4 separate regions of the Homo sapiens genome follow, and regions 1, 2 and 4 are each linked to region 3. The links come from fine-mapping of genetic effects on plasma protein levels. Region 3 holds a variant in brackets. A gene starts in each other region. All regions are shown on their forward strands.

Evidence for each region. A credible set is the group of variants that fine-mapping cannot tell apart. PIP is the posterior inclusion probability: the model's chance that the variant is causal. Protein levels are from antibody-based Olink assays in UK Biobank. Linkage for the fine-mapping came from a reference panel and not from the study's own genotypes, which makes the PIPs less certain.
Region 1: TREML1 starts here. The variant in region 3 is the best candidate, but not a certain one, in a credible set for the plasma level of the TREML1 protein (UK Biobank, PIP 0.61).
Region 2: it holds the start of PPBP, and the variant in region 3 is the best candidate, but not a certain one, in a credible set for the plasma level of the PPBP protein (UK Biobank, PIP 0.80).
Region 4: it holds the start of CLEC1B, and the variant in region 3 is the best candidate, but not a certain one, in a credible set for the plasma level of the CLEC1B protein (UK Biobank, PIP 0.53).

Annotation. Positions count from the first base shown.
Region 1 is chr6:41,151,595-41,156,140 of GRCh38, forward strand. It overlaps TREML1 (triggering receptor expressed on myeloid cells like 1), which reads right to left and starts at 2,753. Exons shown (of 6, transcript NM_178174.4): 1 at 2,652-2,753; 2 at 2,164-2,496. The coding sequence starts at 2,694.
Region 2 is chr4:73,986,137-73,990,602 of GRCh38, forward strand. PPBP (pro-platelet basic protein) reads right to left here and starts at 2,054. Exons shown (of 3, transcript NM_002704.3): 1 at 1,820-2,054; 2 at 1,381-1,516; 3 at 303-1,238. The coding sequence starts at 1,967. The coding sequence ends at 1,136.
Region 3 is chr7:80,587,313-80,591,858 of GRCh38, forward strand. No RefSeq gene overlaps it. Among named protein-coding and RNA genes, the nearest start is that of CD36, 49 kb to the right of the region's middle. The variant C/T (reference allele first, on the strand shown) is at 2,333.
Region 4 is chr12:9,997,018-10,001,563 of GRCh38, forward strand. It overlaps CLEC1B (C-type lectin domain family 1 member B), which reads right to left and starts at 2,104. Exons shown (of 6, transcript NM_016509.4): 1 at 2,020-2,104; 2 at 1,265-1,363; 3 at 143-262. The coding sequence starts at 2,083. It also overlaps a transcript of CLEC12A not described here.

The DNA.
Region 1 (4,546 bases), not on the chromosome of region 3:
CTTTACCTGGTTGTGACTACACCCACTTTTCCCTCTACCACCAGCTCCCCCCATCTTCCTGCTGCATTTCTTCCCTTTTACCTGCTCTACCCCTCACCCCTCTGGCCTTATCAAGCTGTTAAGTCTGTGTAAAAACACCTACTGGATGATCTGTACCCACCTCTCCTTCCCACCCGAATAGGTTTCTGCAGTTCTCATCCTCAATGGTGACATAGCTCCTGGATCTCATGGGTCTTAAATGGGGCTTCCTCACATACCTGTGACCCTGCAACCCTAGCCCAAGCTCTGCCCTCAGGACTGAAGAAAATCTGGGTGGGCCCTCATGTGATGCAACACAAACCAACTGACCCTTGCTGAGAGCCTTGCTGGGATCCTGAGACTCAGTTTGAGGACAAGGCTTCTGTCACCCATATGATGTGCTTGACTTCTGGCTGCAGGACTTGGGGTTGGTTTCTCTGGGCCTGGAGACTTGTCTTAGGAACCTGGCCAGTCCTTTCAGACCGACTGGAATGGGGCCTTGCCTTGTTCTTGAGAGATTCACCATTCCTACTCCCCATCCTATGCCACACCAGGAACTGGGGTTGCTGTGGCACATGTCCTGCCCTCCTGGTGCCTATTAGGCTGCCTTTGACCACCTTCTCTGAAGCTAAATGCTCACCTGAGCCGCAAGCCACATCATCTCTGGATGCTACGCGCCACCTGCCTGCCTGAACATCATCCTCCACAGCACCTGCCCCATGGCAGCAGGTCAGGGGCCCAGGTCCCTGCCTCCCTGACGCTCCTCCCAGGGAGTCTCATCTTGTCACAATTTGCCTTTTAGTGAGTTAGAACCTGAATTTAGTAACTCAAAGTGTCAAGGAATGAGGAGGGCAAAGGATGACAAGGATTAACAATATATTTATAATATAAAACAATAACCACAGGCTTGAGATGAGAAGGATTCTAATGACAACATAGTCTACCCTCTTATTTAGAGGGAAAAAAAACAAGGGAAGGGGCCAGGGGTGGTGGCTTATACCTGCAATCCCAGCACTTTGGGAGGCCAAGGCGGGCAGATCACTTGAGGTCAGGAGTTCAAGACCAGCCTGGCCAACATGATAAAACCCCGTCTCTACTAAAAATACAAAAATTAGCTGGGCATGGTGGTGGGCACCTGTAGTCCCAGTTACTTGGGAGGCTGAGACACAAGAATCACTTGAACCCGAGAGGCCAAGGTTGCAGTGAGCCGATAGTGCCACTGCACTCCAGCTTGAGCAACAGAGTGAGACCCTGTCTCAAACAAAACAAAAAACAAGGGAAGGGAAAATGCTCTACTTAATTTTATTATTTGGGGGTTGGGCATAAAATATGAGAAAAGGAAGACCTAAAGGTGAAAAAATGGCCAGTATCCATAAAAGAAAAGGAGTGGCTGTCTGTGCTTCAGGTAGCTGACCATTTTTTATTTTTAGAACATCCTATCTTTCTTAAAAAAAAAAACCCAAGTTTTTAATATTTTAAAATTTTCTTTTAACAAATGCTTATATACTAGAAAAGTTATGGGCTGTGGGAATGAAACCTGCAAAAACAGTGTCTTTAATACTGAAAATAGGGTCAAGAATATTGGCTTAAAATATTAATGACATTTTTCCATTTTTAAAACGAAAGGAGTTGAAGTTGTTCAGGCACTGAATGTACCTACTTGTAGGTGAGACATACTAGATGGCCTGTGAAGACTTATAAAATTAATTAAGGTATGAATTCCATAATTCTTAAGCCATCAAGCCCGCTATTACAGGAATAAAACACTGGAAGCTACAAAAATTAATTCTGGTTTTATACACTCAGATTCAACATTGTTTAAAATATTTCTAATTAAAAAATAAGTTAGCATCAAGTATGTTGAAAATGCTGGAAGAAGAGGCCAAGTCCCTGGAGTGGGAAGGACATGCCTTCCTGTGGGGAAGCGCAGTAGTGTGGAAGGGGGAAAGGGATGGTTTTCAGCTGATTTATCTCAGACTTCCCACCCAGTTTGGTTTCCGCTCCCTGCAGAGCTGTCAAGAGGATATCTCCTTGGAATGCCTCCTCCCCAGGGGCCCCCACTCCTCAAGAACCCATGAGCCCTGGCAATAGGCGGGGGTGGGGAGGGTAGGTCTAAGGGGTGGTAGCTGGCCTAGGATAACTCACCTGGGGGCAGTATGTTCAGAGAGACTCTGTGCAAAATCTGGGGCCCCCTGGCCCCATCCACCATGCAGCCATACTCGCCAGCATCCTCTTCCTGCAGGGTAACCATTTCCACCTGCAGCAGGCCCCCACCCAGGTCTGTGAGAAACGTACGCCTGCCCGCTGGAGCTCTGCGATCCACAGCTGAGGACACCAGGGGCTGGCACCCCTCCGGCAAGAACCGGCACCACACCTTCTGAGCTTTGACATCCTGGAGCCTGTAGTGGCACTGCACCAGAATGGAGCTTCCCACGGGTGCCTGCAGCACCTCAGGGAGGCTGCCAACTATGCCCTGACCTGGGGAAGGAAAGGAGGTGGGAATTTTGGGCAGGAGCTGGGAGCATCTCCCAGCCCAGCTGCTGGTATGGGTGTGGCATTCACAATAACACGTTACTCCTGGACATGGGGCTGAGCATATGGGGCCCAGAGCTGCAGCTCCTCCTGAACCTTACCTTCTAGTCCCAGGAGCAGCAGCAAGAGCAGGGTGAGGCCCATGGCTGGGCAGAGAAATGTCAACTCCTGGGCTTGCCTGGGCACTGATGCAGCATTCGCCTGAGGGCAGGAAACATCTGCCTCAGAAAGTCACTTGGGGTGGGAGAAAGGAAATGATGGGCACCTCCAGGGGTGGGGAAAGGGAGTTCTTCCAAGCCCTGGTTGGCTCAGTGCTCAGGAACTGCCCTGAGGGTAAGGGTGGGCAAGACAGGATGAGAAGACCCGAAGAAAGCTAGAAGCCTGCAGGGGCTGGGGCCCGGCTAAGGGGTGAGATGGGAGGATTGTGACAATTGGAGGACAGGAGAGGAAGAGGAAAGATGATCTTCAGGATCTTCCTAATACAGAATCTGAGGGTGCACAGCTATGAAGGAGGAAGGTAGAGTGCCCTGCACCTCACTCAATGCCATTCTTGCTCTCAATTCTTTGGGAGTGCCCCACGACCACCCAAGCTTTTAGGAGGTTGTATGCAGTACAACCTCAAACAGGAAGTTTCACCTTGATCCTGTGCCCTGGACTGGGTCTTTCTTCATTTATTGTCCTGGACACTATAGAACCCTTCCATCTGGATCCACATTCTTCAGTTCTGGGAAACAAATTCTTACTTTGATAATTACATGTCCATTTTCTTCTCCCCTTCCATTTTTCTGCAATTCCTTAACTAGTTGGTTATTGAATGTCGTGTGTTCATCTCATTTTCATATCTTTTCTATCTCATTTTCCATCTTTTTGTCTCTTTTGTTCTGCCTTCAAGGAGATTTCCTCATTTTCTTCCATCCTTCTATTTTTGTCTTTTAAAATGTTATTTTTTAATATTTTTAATTTACAAGACAAGATATTCCTTATTCTTTGAGCATTTTTAAATTCTGGCATACTATTTTTGTTTCATGAATGCTCTATCTTCTCTGTTGGAAGACAATTCTTCACAAATATTTTCACATTGCTGCATGTTCTAGTCCTTCTGTGCAAAGGGTATTGGCCAAGTTTTGCTGAAGGGTGATTGAATAGCAAACATACCTTGAGTGCAACGTCCAGAGATTTGCTCGCATTCTTCCTCTTCTTCACCGGAGATTTACATTCCAGAGTAAACGTTTCTCTCTCTCTCTCTCTCTCTCTCTCTCTCTTCCAGAGAGGAAGATATACCAGATTCTCTATATAAACTCCAAGTCTCCTAATTTGGGGGTTTCTCTCCTGTGATCCAAACTCACTGCCTGCACAGGAGGCACCTGGCTCTCATTCATGTTGCCCTGTGGAATTGGGCTCGAGGAACTGGGACAAAGTGTGAGTAATAAACCTAATAAACTATCTGACCTCAGACACAGGGGAAGCACCAGTGGTCAGAGAGACTACAGCAGCTGGGGATGGGTGGGAGGGGCGTATTGCCCTAATCTGGAGGGTAAGACCTAGAAAAGGGCCTGGAAAGGCCATTCTCCCTCACTCCCATCTCCTCCCGTCTCACCTTTTTTCCTCTTTTTCCTTCCTTCCTTTGGGAACAAGGGAGTGAGGAATGGGAAACTGGGAGCAGGAGCATGAGAAAATCAGTTAATGTGTTAAGCTGGGCCTTGTGGAAGTGGGAGATTGGGTGACCAACTTCCCGTTTTTGCTTGGGATTGAGGGGTTTCTTGGGACTTTCTGTGCAAAAACTGAAAAAGTCCTGAACAAACCAGGACGGGTCACCCTAGTTGGTGATGTGCTTATGTCTGTCTTGCCAATGCATATCAGGCTTTCTTTGATTTCCTTATAAGAAAGTTATTTTCATACTAACAAGCCACCCAGGCGTGTTGTGTGAAGAGGTGAACTGTATTCAACACTGGACTAAGTGTTGAATATGGTCCACTGCTGGGTGCTGAGACAGAGG
Region 2 (4,466 bases), not on the chromosome of region 3:
AACAAGTGGCAGAGCCAGGTTACCTCATTATTCAAACTCCAGAGGATGTTCTTTTAACCAGATCATATCTATCTTTTAAAAAATTGTTTAGTTCATGCATGGAAAACACTTAGTATTCCTGGCATATTAAAATGATTAATAAATTGGAACTGTTATCATACTACATTAAGAATGACACCGATCATCAATTTAGTAACTTTTGTTGTTCAAACTGTGAAATACCAAGTATACAAAAAAGAGAGGAAAATTAAAGCTTTTTTTCCCCAACAATCCTGTTAAAATTAATAATAGATGACAACAAGTCAATAGCAAATTTTTATTTCATGTGAATATTTTTGTAAGAATAGTGTGGGTATAAGTTTTAGGGTTTAAAAAATGAATGAAAGTTCTGTTGATGAAAAAAGTAGAATTTAGAATTAGGAGTCTAGTAAGGTTGAAGTCCTATATTGTACTTATTTATAAGGCTCATTCTAATGATAGAATTATAACTATGTAGATATGTTAATTCATTTTCATCATCTATTTTTGTTCTACTAGTGGCAAATATATTCACTTTAAACCAGCTAACCACAGTTTATAAGATTCATATTCACCAATTTATTATTTTAGTGTTTGATGGCTAAAATAAACATCAGAATAAACTTTCAGGGAGTATTTTAAATAAGACATCCTAGGACTAAGACACTGAGAGACTCCATTAAGTTCCTAAATATATTAACAAAAATGTATTGAGCAAATATTCTCTGTTGGGCTCCATGTAATTCCTATTATCATTGACCATTATGAAATCTAATAATACCCATGAGTATGTCTAATAACCATAAAGTAGACCAGGAAAAATCAACCAAGTTGTGTTAGAATAGAAATTTTTAAAGAAAAAAATGCAAAGTACAGTCCAATGTTTAGGCAAGAATTAGAGGGTTGAAACCAGGCTTATTTATTTTCATCTTCTTTCTGCCATCTTTTAACCAACCTTCTCAGAATAAAATGTGATTTTTGAGACAGAATGAAACACATATCCAAATTTTAATACAGTAAGAATAGGTATCCTGAATAAATGAGAACTCTAGAAAATCAAGGTTTCAAAATTCTACCCTTCCTGGGAGTTAAAGAAGTTTGGCAGAAACAGAACAAATTAATCAGCAGATTCATCACCTGCCAATTTTTTCTGTACAATTTTCTTGATTCTGGGAGCATCTGGGTCCAGGCAGATTTTCCTCCCATCCTTCAGTGTGGCTCTGCAAAAGAGAACAGGGTTATCTGTGGGTGTCCTGATCTGAATATCAGAACTAATCCATGAGACTGGAGGAAACGAGTGCATATGTGGATGGAGGTAGAGGGTTTCTCTGATAAGGCAATAGCACAGAAACAGCAACTTACATCACTTCGACTTGGTTGCAATGGGTTCCTTTCCCGATCACTTCCAAACTTTGGATGTTTTTGGGATGAATTCCAGAGGTTGTCTTTATACACATGCAGCGGAGTTCAGCATACAAGTCACTGTCTAGACTTTCCTCTAGGGTAGAAAATGTGACCTATTGGTGGTCATGAATATTTTCCTCAGGTCTCTTATTTGCAGATTGAGGGCAATTGTACCTCTCTCATAAAGCCATTGTGAATATGATCTGTAACGCTTTAGTAAAGTGCCCAGAAGATTGCCCAGCACACAAGAAGTGAGAAGTGACCCCCCTGTGTGTCTCCTCCAATTGGAGTTATTGGTATAATGGCCCTCTCCAGCCCCAAAGGCACCAAGCTAGTCTTTACCCCAGAGACAGGTGTAGCAGAAGCAGCAACAAGTGCAGAGAAGCAGGGCCTCTACCTTTGCCTTTCGCCAAGTTTCTCTTAGTTTGTCCTTTGGTGGAGGAAGCCAGAGCAGTCAGCAGCAATGACAGAAGCAGCAGCACCTGCAAGGCATGAAGTGGTCTCGCACTGTTACAGGAAGGGGTGGTATCAAGTCTGAGGCTCATGGTGGAGAAGGCTGAGCTAGAGTTGTTTCCAGAACCAGAAGACCTCTGAGTGAGGGTGAGTTGCTGCCTACAAGTCTGCAGATAAGTGGCTTCTCATGCCCTGAAGATGTCATTTATATGCTCTTTCTCAAAGCCAGTAAGAAGGAAGAGGTAGGAAAGGAGGAAGTGAGGGTATGTGGTGATACACACATAAGCATTTGAAGCTGTGCCCAACCCAGAGAAAGACCAGACAGGTCAAATTCCTACTAACTTGCTTAATGTGCATCACTTCACATTCCCACTCTCCCTTTCTCAATACTTATCTTCCTTACACCTGTGTAAGAACTCCGTTCAGGAAGGTAAGAACTAGACTGAAATACTACATGCATTTTCTTTGTATGATTTATAACAATACGCCCTGCCTTTTCTATACTGCAGTTTTTAGGCTTAATAGAAACTTTAGGAGCACCTGAAGGCACAAACATGTGGCCCTTGAAAGAGAAAGTTATCTTTGCTTGCCAAAGAAAGCAAATGTTCTTTTCATGAATGTTGATAAATATTGGGATTGGTTTGGAGCATGTAAGTAAAATAAGAGCCAATTACCGTCAAAGGTTGTCTTTGGATTTTAGCTTATTGGATTCTTTCTGCCTTCAATCTATATTATCTTTTGTAATTTCATCTAGAAACTACAAATGAAACTCATCCTCCTTTATATTACAAAAGAAGCTACTTGTTTCTACCACCTAAGAATACCTAAAAAGTAGGACCCAGCATATTTATTTTTCTTTTTATTTTTAATTTAACAGAAAAATTATATAATTTATTGCAAAAGATTCGTATGCTGCAGATGTCTTTGAAATAAAACACAAATTTCTCTTCATCATTTCTCCACATTCCTACTATTCAGTGGTAAACACTGGTAACAATTTTGCATTAGTTTTCAATTCTGTCTGCACTTATATGCACACATGTATATGTATACAATGAGACACGTTTAAGACATAGAGGTACACATATACATAGAAGTATTGTATATGGATCACTATACAGCTGACTTTTATCCTTCAAAAAATATGTGTTCCTTATCTTTTCAGGTCATCTTAATGTAGTTTTCCCCCATTCTTCTTAATGACCATGTGACGTCCTGTGATAAGAACAATAGTTACTCAACCTTGCCTTGTTGGTGCCCTTCACGGTGTTTCCAATTTTGCACTATTAGAAATTGTGCAAGAAATGTCCTTACCAAGGAAAATATTTGTTCCTGAATTCTCAGACCCAAATTAAAGGTTTTGGTCTGAAATGCTATATCCCTACAAAGATAGAGAGGTGGACCTACACATTACATGTTGGCTTTATGTTATTTTCTGGTTCTCTGTCCCATCTGTAAGACTTCCTTCCTCAATTGAACCATGCACTTTTGTAGGGAGTGGCATGTCCTGTGTTTGTTTGAATGTCTCATGTATCCTATAACATGTAGGATACTTCAATATAAAGTAGGTCTTAAATAATTAATAAATCAATGAATACGTATCACATGAAAGCTTCCCTATCCTTTCTAATCACCTACAATTCCAGGCCAAACTCGACAGGACCCAAAGCAACTATGCTATTTAAATTTATTTGGAAGATTGTCAATAAAGAAGAGGCAGATGTAAGTGGCACTGGCAACAAGTTTTCTTCCTTTTACAACTATGTATAAGTCTCACAGAATATTATTTAAATTTTCCATATTCTTTTCTTACTTTTCATATCCTTAAATTTTAGAAGAAATGCTTAAAATACTAAATGTTCAAAATTACTCTCTATCAAAAAGATGAATATAGTAATTTTTTAAATCATGTTTTTGTTTTCAAGCCAATTTTCCCTATTGTTTAATAGTTATCTACTATGTCTACTCAAGTTCTCAGGTCCTGTTTTTAAATGCGATAACCTACAGACCACATTTGACAGTTTACTTTAGAAGTAAGCAGACTTCCAAATTAACTCGCCCTGGAAAGGTTTCGTGACTTGATGGTGACATTCTATCTCTGAGTAAAGTATTTTATTACGAGTTCCTCAAATGATTGATGTACTAATTACTGTAGAACCTACTGACACTAAATAGGACAATGATTTATTTCTAAGTTTAGCTGAAACAAAAAGTTTTATTGATTGTTTTGTATGTAGACATTTAGCCTGTATGCTGTAATCTGTAGCTAATGATTTTAACTTCGGTATTGTACCCTCCAATGAAAAAGAAGACAACTCTGGTATGAGGAGTTTTTCTGCCTTATTTTAAGCTTTTCTATTATATAAAGCCCTTGTAACTTGTGAAAGACTCTAGAACACCCCCAACTTTGTGGATGTGTCTTCCCAGGTCTGTCTTCCCAGTTGGCTTTCAATAAACATGTATAAAATTATTTCTGCCTCACTAGCCTTAGTTTCAGTTGATGAATGTATTTCTTATTTTTCTCCACCTCATTTATTGTTTTCTTTAAATTAGAGTTTAGCAGTAGAGCATATTTAATTGGAATGATTTTT
Region 3 (4,546 bases):
ATCTAACCTTTCAGGGCCCAGGATTCTAACACCTTTCATTCACAGATGAGAAAATGTGACTTGGGTGTGGTGGGTCATACCTGTAATCCCAGTGACACAGGAGGCTGAGGCAGGAGGATTGCTTGAGCCCAGGAGTTTGAGACCAGCCTAGGCAATATAGTGAGACCCCATATTTACAAAAAAGTAAAAATAAAACTTAGCTGAGAATGGTGGCACATCATGTCTGTAATTTCAGTGATGGGAGTCTGAGGTGGGAGGATCACTTGAACCTAAGAGGTTGAGGCTACAGTGAGCAAGATTGCACCACTGCACTCTAGCCTGAGTGACAGAGTGAACCCTATCTGAAAAAAAAATGGGGCCTTTGATCTCAAAGGTTAATTGAGGCAGCTGAGTATTGAGAAGTCATTTGAGTGACAGTGTTTGGAAAATATCTGACAGTGTATGACAGATTCATGGATAATCTATTAGACAATTATTCTCCATTCAGAACTGAAGTTGTAAGGGTAAAAACAGCTGATAACCAAGATAAGGGAGGATATTATAATCAAACAACGTTTTGACATTTGGTGTCACTTGGTCTGGGAACAAGGATAAAGAATAATACCTGGATGATAAATAAGATAGCTTCCTCATCTAGTCAATAATCTGCACTGTAGTGTTCTTTACATGAGAGATTTAATGAGGCTTAAATGAAATGGTTAATGTGTTAGCTCTCTGACTGCTAATCAGATATATTATTGGGTACTTACTACTAAACACAATGATGACTGCAAAGCCATAATCATTTCTCTCCAGGGGCTTCTAATTTGTTGGCTAATGATAACTATAATCTGTAAGGGAGGCGTAGAAGTAGTGGTGGTACAAGAATAGGTATAAACTGCACAATGAGGGAACATAAGCCCTAAGTTATGCTTTGGACATAAAAGCTCAATGTGGTCAAAAGACCAAGAGTCTGATGGAGTCGGCTTCTAATTGCCGTAGAATCCTGAGCAAAGCATTTAGCTTTGTGTGTGACTTGAGGTGGCTCTATTAATTTCCATTTGTTTTGAATTAGTTACTTTATGCATGTGTGTGTCAGTCTGATTTTCATAATCACAATTCATCCAAAGATTTTCTCAAAAGTCAGACTTATCTAGAAAATCTATACCAAAGAAGTCACAAAGAATGGCTCGACGTTGGAGAGAATGCTGAGATCTAAGGGAAAAGATACAACAGATCACAAGAAATTATTATGAACAATTATACGCTAGCAATTTGGAAAAACCTAGATGAAATGGATAAATTACTGAACATGTGCAATCTACCAAGATTGAATTATTAAGAAATCGAAAATCTGAACACATCTATCTCTCAATTGCCTGTACTGGTACCTAGAAATGTGTTTTATTGCATTCCGTATTGAAACAATTCATTCAGTCAATTTCATGGAAAGCCTTCAATGTAACAGGCCCTAAGATGAACAAGGGTAAACTGGCTAACGCTGAGTCATGACCTGCAAATAACTGCCAGACCTCCAAGGGAATTTATATTGTAATGGGCCAAAGCTTCTATTTAGCATTAAGGCAATGGAATAGAGTTTTTATTTGAGGTATCATCAAGAAAAGTAGATGTGACAGTTTTGGATTCAGTGTTGTATATGATCTCTTTGATCCTGCAGATGTTTTAATACTACAATTAGCACACAGTAGCTAAATAAATCCAATCAGTTCTGTGTTGTGAATTAGCATGCATGTAATACAAACATAAAATTTAGCGACTGTTTTTTCCTAGTGACTTCGGACCTTGGTCATTGCAATTCTTATCTAATCTCTGATTTAGCCTCCAAATTCCAATATTCAAATATCCGTTTATATCATGTCTGTCCTTTATGTTAAGGTTTTTAGACTGAATATCTAAAAGTGATTTACTGCCCAAATGGCAAAATGTGGATAAACATTGAAGCTGAGGTATGATCACCTGGGCTCTATGTTATACCATTATCTCTACTCTCTAAGATGTCCACAACATAAAGTTAAAAGACAAAAAATAATAATAAAAGATATTTTTAGATATTGTCCTTATGAACAAAATGAGTATAAAGTTGACTTGTAACTGTACAGGAAGAAAAGTTTACAGAAAGACTGAGTAGGCCTAACTGTATCTGCTGTCAATCAAAAAACACAAGTATCACAAATATTTTCTGCTTTATGAATTTTGCTTGCATTTAATCCTTTACATGAAAGACAATCAGTCTCCTATGTTTCTAAGTTTCCTGGAAGGGGTAATGTCATATAAACCTTAATCAAGAGTTAGACCTTGAAATCTTAGCTGCTTAAATCACCCATTTCTATAT[C/T]GTGTTCATTGTTATTAACTTAAAATTCAAATCCCACAGTTCTGTGTTTCATTTTTAGCACATCACTTCTGGTAGGGACCAGATGTTTCCTTTAGACTAGGTTATGGCTTCTTATTTGCTTCTCTTTTTTATCTTAAAATTTATACCTACTAATAGCTTCCATGAGGTCATTTGCAGGACATTACAGTATAGAGTCCTTGAGCTGGCAGCTTGGAATAATGTTTTAGGGACAAGGAAGGAAGCTCTAAGGGAAAAGTGTGGAAAGGGAAAGAGAAGGAGACAGACACAGTATATGGAGATACCAGATGAAGCTAAGAAAAAAATAGACAGCACACTCCAACTTGCTTAACTGTGATCTCCATGCAAAAAAAAAAAAAAAAAAAGTCTTACGGGGAAACATTCCAATTTGCATTGTAAGTGTATCTTAGTATTCAGGTAAACTTTTAATAATTGTCTTTAAAATACAGCTGAGTATTTCCATGGCTTAATATTCTCCTTATAATATTAAATTTGTCTATTATGTATCATTTAAGGGGAAAAGCAAAAACACAGACAATGTTATTCTCTGTACTTCTTTTGATGTAAACAAAACAAAATATATAACTTCTAGATAAAAAGCGAACTAAAAATATTAGTGAAAGTCCCCAACCCTAATTTTAGGAGCTTCCAAAATTGCTTACAAGTGTGCTCTGTAATGCAAAAGATGTTCAAGTTTATGGATCAATTAGGACATTAAGATAATAAACCAGAATTAAACCAAGTATTAGCATATACTTTACATACTAATTTTGGTCAGAAACATTCCATCAAAGATTAAAATTTGGTATTACATCTACAAACAGTAAGGCAAGGGTTAATGTCACTATCCTGAGCTCACTTCTTTCAGGAATCTATGACTACAGTCCCTAATTTTGATAATATATCAAACAAGTATGAACAGAAAATGTATAAGTTTTCTTTATCATCGAAGAGACTATAGCAATGAGTTATTAAATGGCTATTTGAAATGTATCTCACACACAAATATAAAGATATCTTGTTATATAATATTAGGTCTTAGGTTTTATGCTAAAAATGTTTCAATTTTGATAGAGATGAAATCTCTTCTCCTATACCCTCGTATTTATGACTGATTTCTGGCTATATGTTGTGTCACCTCCTGAACCATGGACATGACCACTGATTATAATCTGAATTTGGTAATAAGATACATGAACTTGACATGCCCACCACCCCGTATCTTCCTCTAATTGTAAATTGTTCTAAAGGATATACAATATTTGCTAAAATAAAAGTATTTCTTAGAGGTACCTAGATCATACCCCCAAAATAGTATGGCAAAACATATTCAATTTATACACTTAGAGTTCCAAAGTAAAGTATACAAATCTGGCAATTTGATGCCAATTTGTGAATAAGGAAATGGGAGATCGTGGAAAATAAGGAATTGCAAAGTTTAAAATAATAATAATAACAGAAACATCAAGGCAAAAGATACCACAGGTATCTTGAATATCATTCTAAGGTTCTTTTTTTACAAATCTGAGACACTTAGGTTTTCAAGGACAGTTGAAAATAATGAAGCAAAGAGCAATTATAAGCCAAGATATGCCAAACATGAAGAGAATAAACCTTTGCACTAACCTTCCATACCCTTTCAGTGTCTCCTCAATTCCTACTGAATGGATACCTTGCCCAAGCATTTAACATTTTCTGTGATATTTCCTCAGTTTTCTTTTTCTTTTTTCCCAAATTTGAAAATTATTTCCTACTTCTTGAGTTGGCAGAGCTTCAGGCAAACTTAATGCCTCTCTGCTTCATGTACATATCCCATATGTTTAAGGGCCTCCAAGTCTTTTTTTAAACTGTTTGCTCTGCCTAGAAGCTCATTTCTTTCCCTTTCCACATGTTCATATCCTATGAATTTTTTCAAAGTTTTACATAATATCCTATTATCTCTGCATTTCCTCATCTCCTTCTGAGATGTCAAAGCAAATTATTTATGCATATCTTACAGTTTAATAATTAGCTACTTTCTATTATAACTATCATCTATCTACTATTGTACTACAGTTTTTCCCAACCACTAGTTTCCAATATTCAGGGATTAACAATAACAAAAATGGTAAATGTGTCTGTTTCCATTTCGATTTTAAAATCAATTTGGACTCTAACTGCTTGAAAAGGAAATCAGCAGTTTCAGATCCTCTTAGT
Region 4 (4,546 bases), not on the chromosome of region 3:
AGGAATGGTGTATTTTTTCTAAATTGGGCTTACATTTTCTTCACATTCAATGTTTTCTGCAGATCTCAAACTCCCTTCAGTTGCCATCAGAGAAATGCTCCAGGGGTTGGAGAGATGAAGAGGTTAAAAAAACAATACTTACTGAAAGTGCCCTTTAGTTCTGATTGTTTTACCACATATTGACAGAAGCGCTTTGCTAATTGTTGCAGAGTTCCTGTGCGATTTTCATTCTCACCTTGTAGGTAATTGCGCTGCATGACAGCTAGGTTTAAAAAGTAAATAATAATAATTTGTAATTAGAACCATAGAAATGATGCAAAGGTCTGTCATTGAATTTTCATTTCCTTAACTTTGCCAATATATGAGGAGTTTACTAGATACACATGATTAAATGAATGTTGAAAAGTGTGGAGGGGCTATAAAGAACAAATTAAGAAATACACAGAACTGACGCCTGAGGGTTAATAAGTGAACTGTTTGAAGGAGACAATCACAAATAAAAAATCCCAACATCGATAACATCCCCAGAGCCTGTATTCATTTGCTTGAATACAAGCTTCTCAGCTGAGTTATAGAGGTGAATGACCTCTTATTTTCTGTTCTTTCTGTGATGCCAAACTATTCATTCATTTAAAAATACATACTGATTTCTTGTTATGCTTAAAGTACTTGTGATATTCAGGTAAATAATAAAGAAATACAAGAGGATAAATGTTAGATTCTAACATCTTTTAAAAAAATCAACAAATACACAAACAAGCAACAACTACACAGACTTCAATGTGCTATTGGAGGGCCATGAGAATTACAGAAAGAAGAAATGCACAGTAACTTAGTAAACAAAATGAGAAACAGAAAATTTTAGGTAGAGAGAATAGAATGAGAAAAATTTCAGACAAGGGAACATGGAATTTATATATGAAATTGAAAAACTCCAGTTTGGCTGGTTCTTAGGAATGCAAGATAGGAAAAGGGATGAAAAAGTTTTTAAAAATAGTTTGGATCCACACTGAGGAGGGTCTTAAAGGCCAGTAGTACATTCTTAAAAATAACTTTTCATTAGTTAAAATCTTAAAATCTTATTTTAATCACAAGGAAACAGTCAGTGTTCTCCTTTATTGAGATTCTCTTGGCAACTATCTGTAGGACAACTGTAGAAGTGATAAACAGACAAATAGCGACCATTGAGAAGCTTAGTGGGATATGCCATGACCCTTCAGTATTACCTTCCTCCAGTCAAATTTCTGGCAGAGTCAACACTTACACCAAATCCCCAGAGCCACCAGCCCGACAACCATCCCCACGCACAGGATCAGCAGAATCAAAGCCATCACACGCCACCAGGAGGAGGATGCAGAGCCAACTGTAGGCATATAATAAAGACATCAAGGAGCAGGCAGTATGGGTTAGCTATGGGGAAGGCTCACCCCTGCCCCTGCCCCTGCCTTCTCAGGGTCCTCCAAGTAATAGAAAGAGCTTTGCTGGCAGATCTCACCTGTGTTCTCCTCATGATCATCAACAATAGGCATGGCCCACCCCTATACCATACATCCATTCTCATCTCCAATGCACTTTACCTCTCCAAGCTGAAATATTACTTGCTGTTAAGGCCTGATGTGTTTGTATTTTTTGTTTTGTTTTGTTTTGTTTTGTTTTGTTTTATGCTCACCCATGCCATAAATAATTGCTTTAATAAACAGCAAATGAAGAATCACACTCATTTGCTCACATATAGAAAATGAAATTTCCACTCTTTTCCGTTATCCCCTTGACTTCTATGCCCTCGAGTATTAAACGCTCAGAATCTTAATGCAATTTTCCCTGCACATATATTGGATGTTTGTAATCTAAATAGGTCTGTATGAGCTTATGAAAACACTACTCAAATGCTTTAGAGCATTAACATCATTCAAGAAAAAGAAATTAAACTATATATATTATCAATAGTAGAAAAAGAAAGAATTGAATCAACTCATTTTTTAAATTAATTTCCAAATTATTGGCTCTGAGCATTCTTACCGGAGATGAGAGCTGGTTTCCGAGTTTTAATATTTAAGGTGATGTATCCATCTTCATCCTGCATGGCTTCCCGAGTACTGCAACTGAGCTCAGAGTTCAATGACTTTGCAAAATGTAGTTTCCAACTTTACAATTTCAGTATCTGTCAGTTTATGATCTTCCTGTCTTTAGTAGGGTAGAACCATGTGAGATGGGACACATTTGTTTTCCTTTGCTTATTGTTTTCCAGGAAGCTTCTTCATAGCTGCTCAGAGATACATGGACCTTGAACACAAAAACACAAAAATAATAATAACTTGTGGTAAAGGAGTAGATAAGGTATTTGCTTCCTGCTTTTTTTTTATCTTCAACACTAAATAAAGGGACATTCCATCATGTGCATCCTTTCTAAGAACAAAAGTTCATGCTTTATCTTAGCCCTAGCTTAGTCTAAATTACATTGCTCAAATGAGAGATTTCTGCTGAAAATTCATGGATATAGCTCACCAGCAGATATATAGTTTATCTCATTGTGAGAAGCAAGTGTAATATAATTGGATCTGATAGGGGCTAAATTAGCTGTTTCATAGTCTTGTGTTGGAAGAGATCATTCCTGATTATGACCTAGAATTTACACAACTTCTTGCATATTTCATACTTTTTTTTATTTGAAGGATCCACATGAGGCAGGCCTGATATTGCTTAGATTTAGGTATTGAAGGAAAACTATCAAATCAAGTAAAATAATACAGAGTTGGTGACTTGCTGCATTGTTCTTTAGTAGTGTTTGTGCTTTAAAGTGAGTTTCCTGGAATGGAAGAATTTTGATTTGATGAAATCACTTCATTTCAAGTACAGCTGTGCTTAGATGAATATTTGAGACTGAATGGTTCCTAGCACCTTTTCATCACAATATAATATGTATTGCACACACTTAACTTTATGAAATGGGCTTTTACATTATTTTAGCTTGCACTGAAAGTAGTTGTAAGAACAGCCATACAAAGCTAGCTGATGCATTTATTATAGGAATATTGGGGAGGATGTTGTCTATTTTGCCATAGGGTAACTCTTACATAGTTTTATGGCAGATTTTTATTTTTGTTAAATCACCATGACTAGCAAAGCTTTAAGTAGTAGGCATTTACCTTATAAATAATTTGAATTCTATTTTTCTTTACTTAGCAGAGTGTTAGACTTTTCAATATAGTGATTATGTGGGCTGCAGTAGCAGATATTTTGTTTATTAACATGCCCTTTGGCATAGCCCGTAGATTTTTTCTCCCCTGCTATCTCCTTCACTCTGAATTTCTTGTCAATTCACTTAAAATTATCTTTCATTCTAAATTTCTTTCTCTATACTCTTCAAATTATTTTGAGAATGAGGTGAAGAATAAGCATAACACGTATAAAAGACATTCCCTGATTTTGGAAAGCCAAACTTAGTATGATTCAAATATTTTTACCAAAACTAATTCTTAATTAAAAAAAAACACATTTGAAATAAATGCCAAATTTTAAGAAAAGACTAAAAATTTTTAAAAAACATTAAATCCCAACACCATTTTTGTTGCTGTGTTTCTTATCTCAGTTAAAATATTCAGGGGTTCCCAATCATAAGCTGGGTAAATTCAGTCACTTACCATTCATCTACCACTGCTTCTGTTCTCATAACTTCTGTTTCAGCTAAAAGGGATTCTTCGCTCTCCCATCATTTATCCTCAGGCTTTTCTGGAAGATTGGGGTTGGAATGGGGTTTGATCCTCCCTCTCTTCCTTCCTTTCTACATCTACTCATCAGCAAGTCCTGAGGCTATTCTGTCACAGTAACCCCTGTCTTTCACGTTCTTTTGGTCACTGCTTTCCTTCAGTGTTTTGTTACCTAAAATATACAGAAACACTAAAAAATAATCGAATAAATAACTGTGACAAAGTAACAGAGAGAAAAGAAAATGTGTGGAGGTTATAGTACAAATGACACTTTTCCAATAAAGCTTTACTCTGTTCTCTTAGGTACCAAACAGGTACATATGAAAACTTAATTTGTTACATTAAATCAGATATGTAAAGGTAAGATCCAAGGACATTGAGACAATTTTTAAATTATTGTAAACATTTTTTGTTTATTAACAAAAACTTTAAGATGGTATTAAAGAGAACAATTAGATTGCTTTGTTGAGGTTTCCACATTCTCTAGGACTTGAGCAGCTGATTTCATTATAAAACATGTCCCATGTATTTTTGTAAACCACCAGGAATGTGCCAGGATTAGTTCTTGATCCTTTAATGCTTAGAACTGCATATTTAATGCCTGAAGTAGGTTAACACTCCGCCTTTGAAGATATTCCTTTCCTATATCTCAGGCTCTGGACTTTCCATTGCTTCATTCCTCTTTCTCATTGTAATTTAACCTTGCTTTTTGGATCTTTGATCATTCCAGCCACAGTCTGAGAGTCTTATATCTTATCTGTGTTCCACAAAATATACGTTTGCCTTTCTGTGTATCCCCCCTCACATGACTTTGTGGTGTTAGAAGCAAGCTGAGCGAA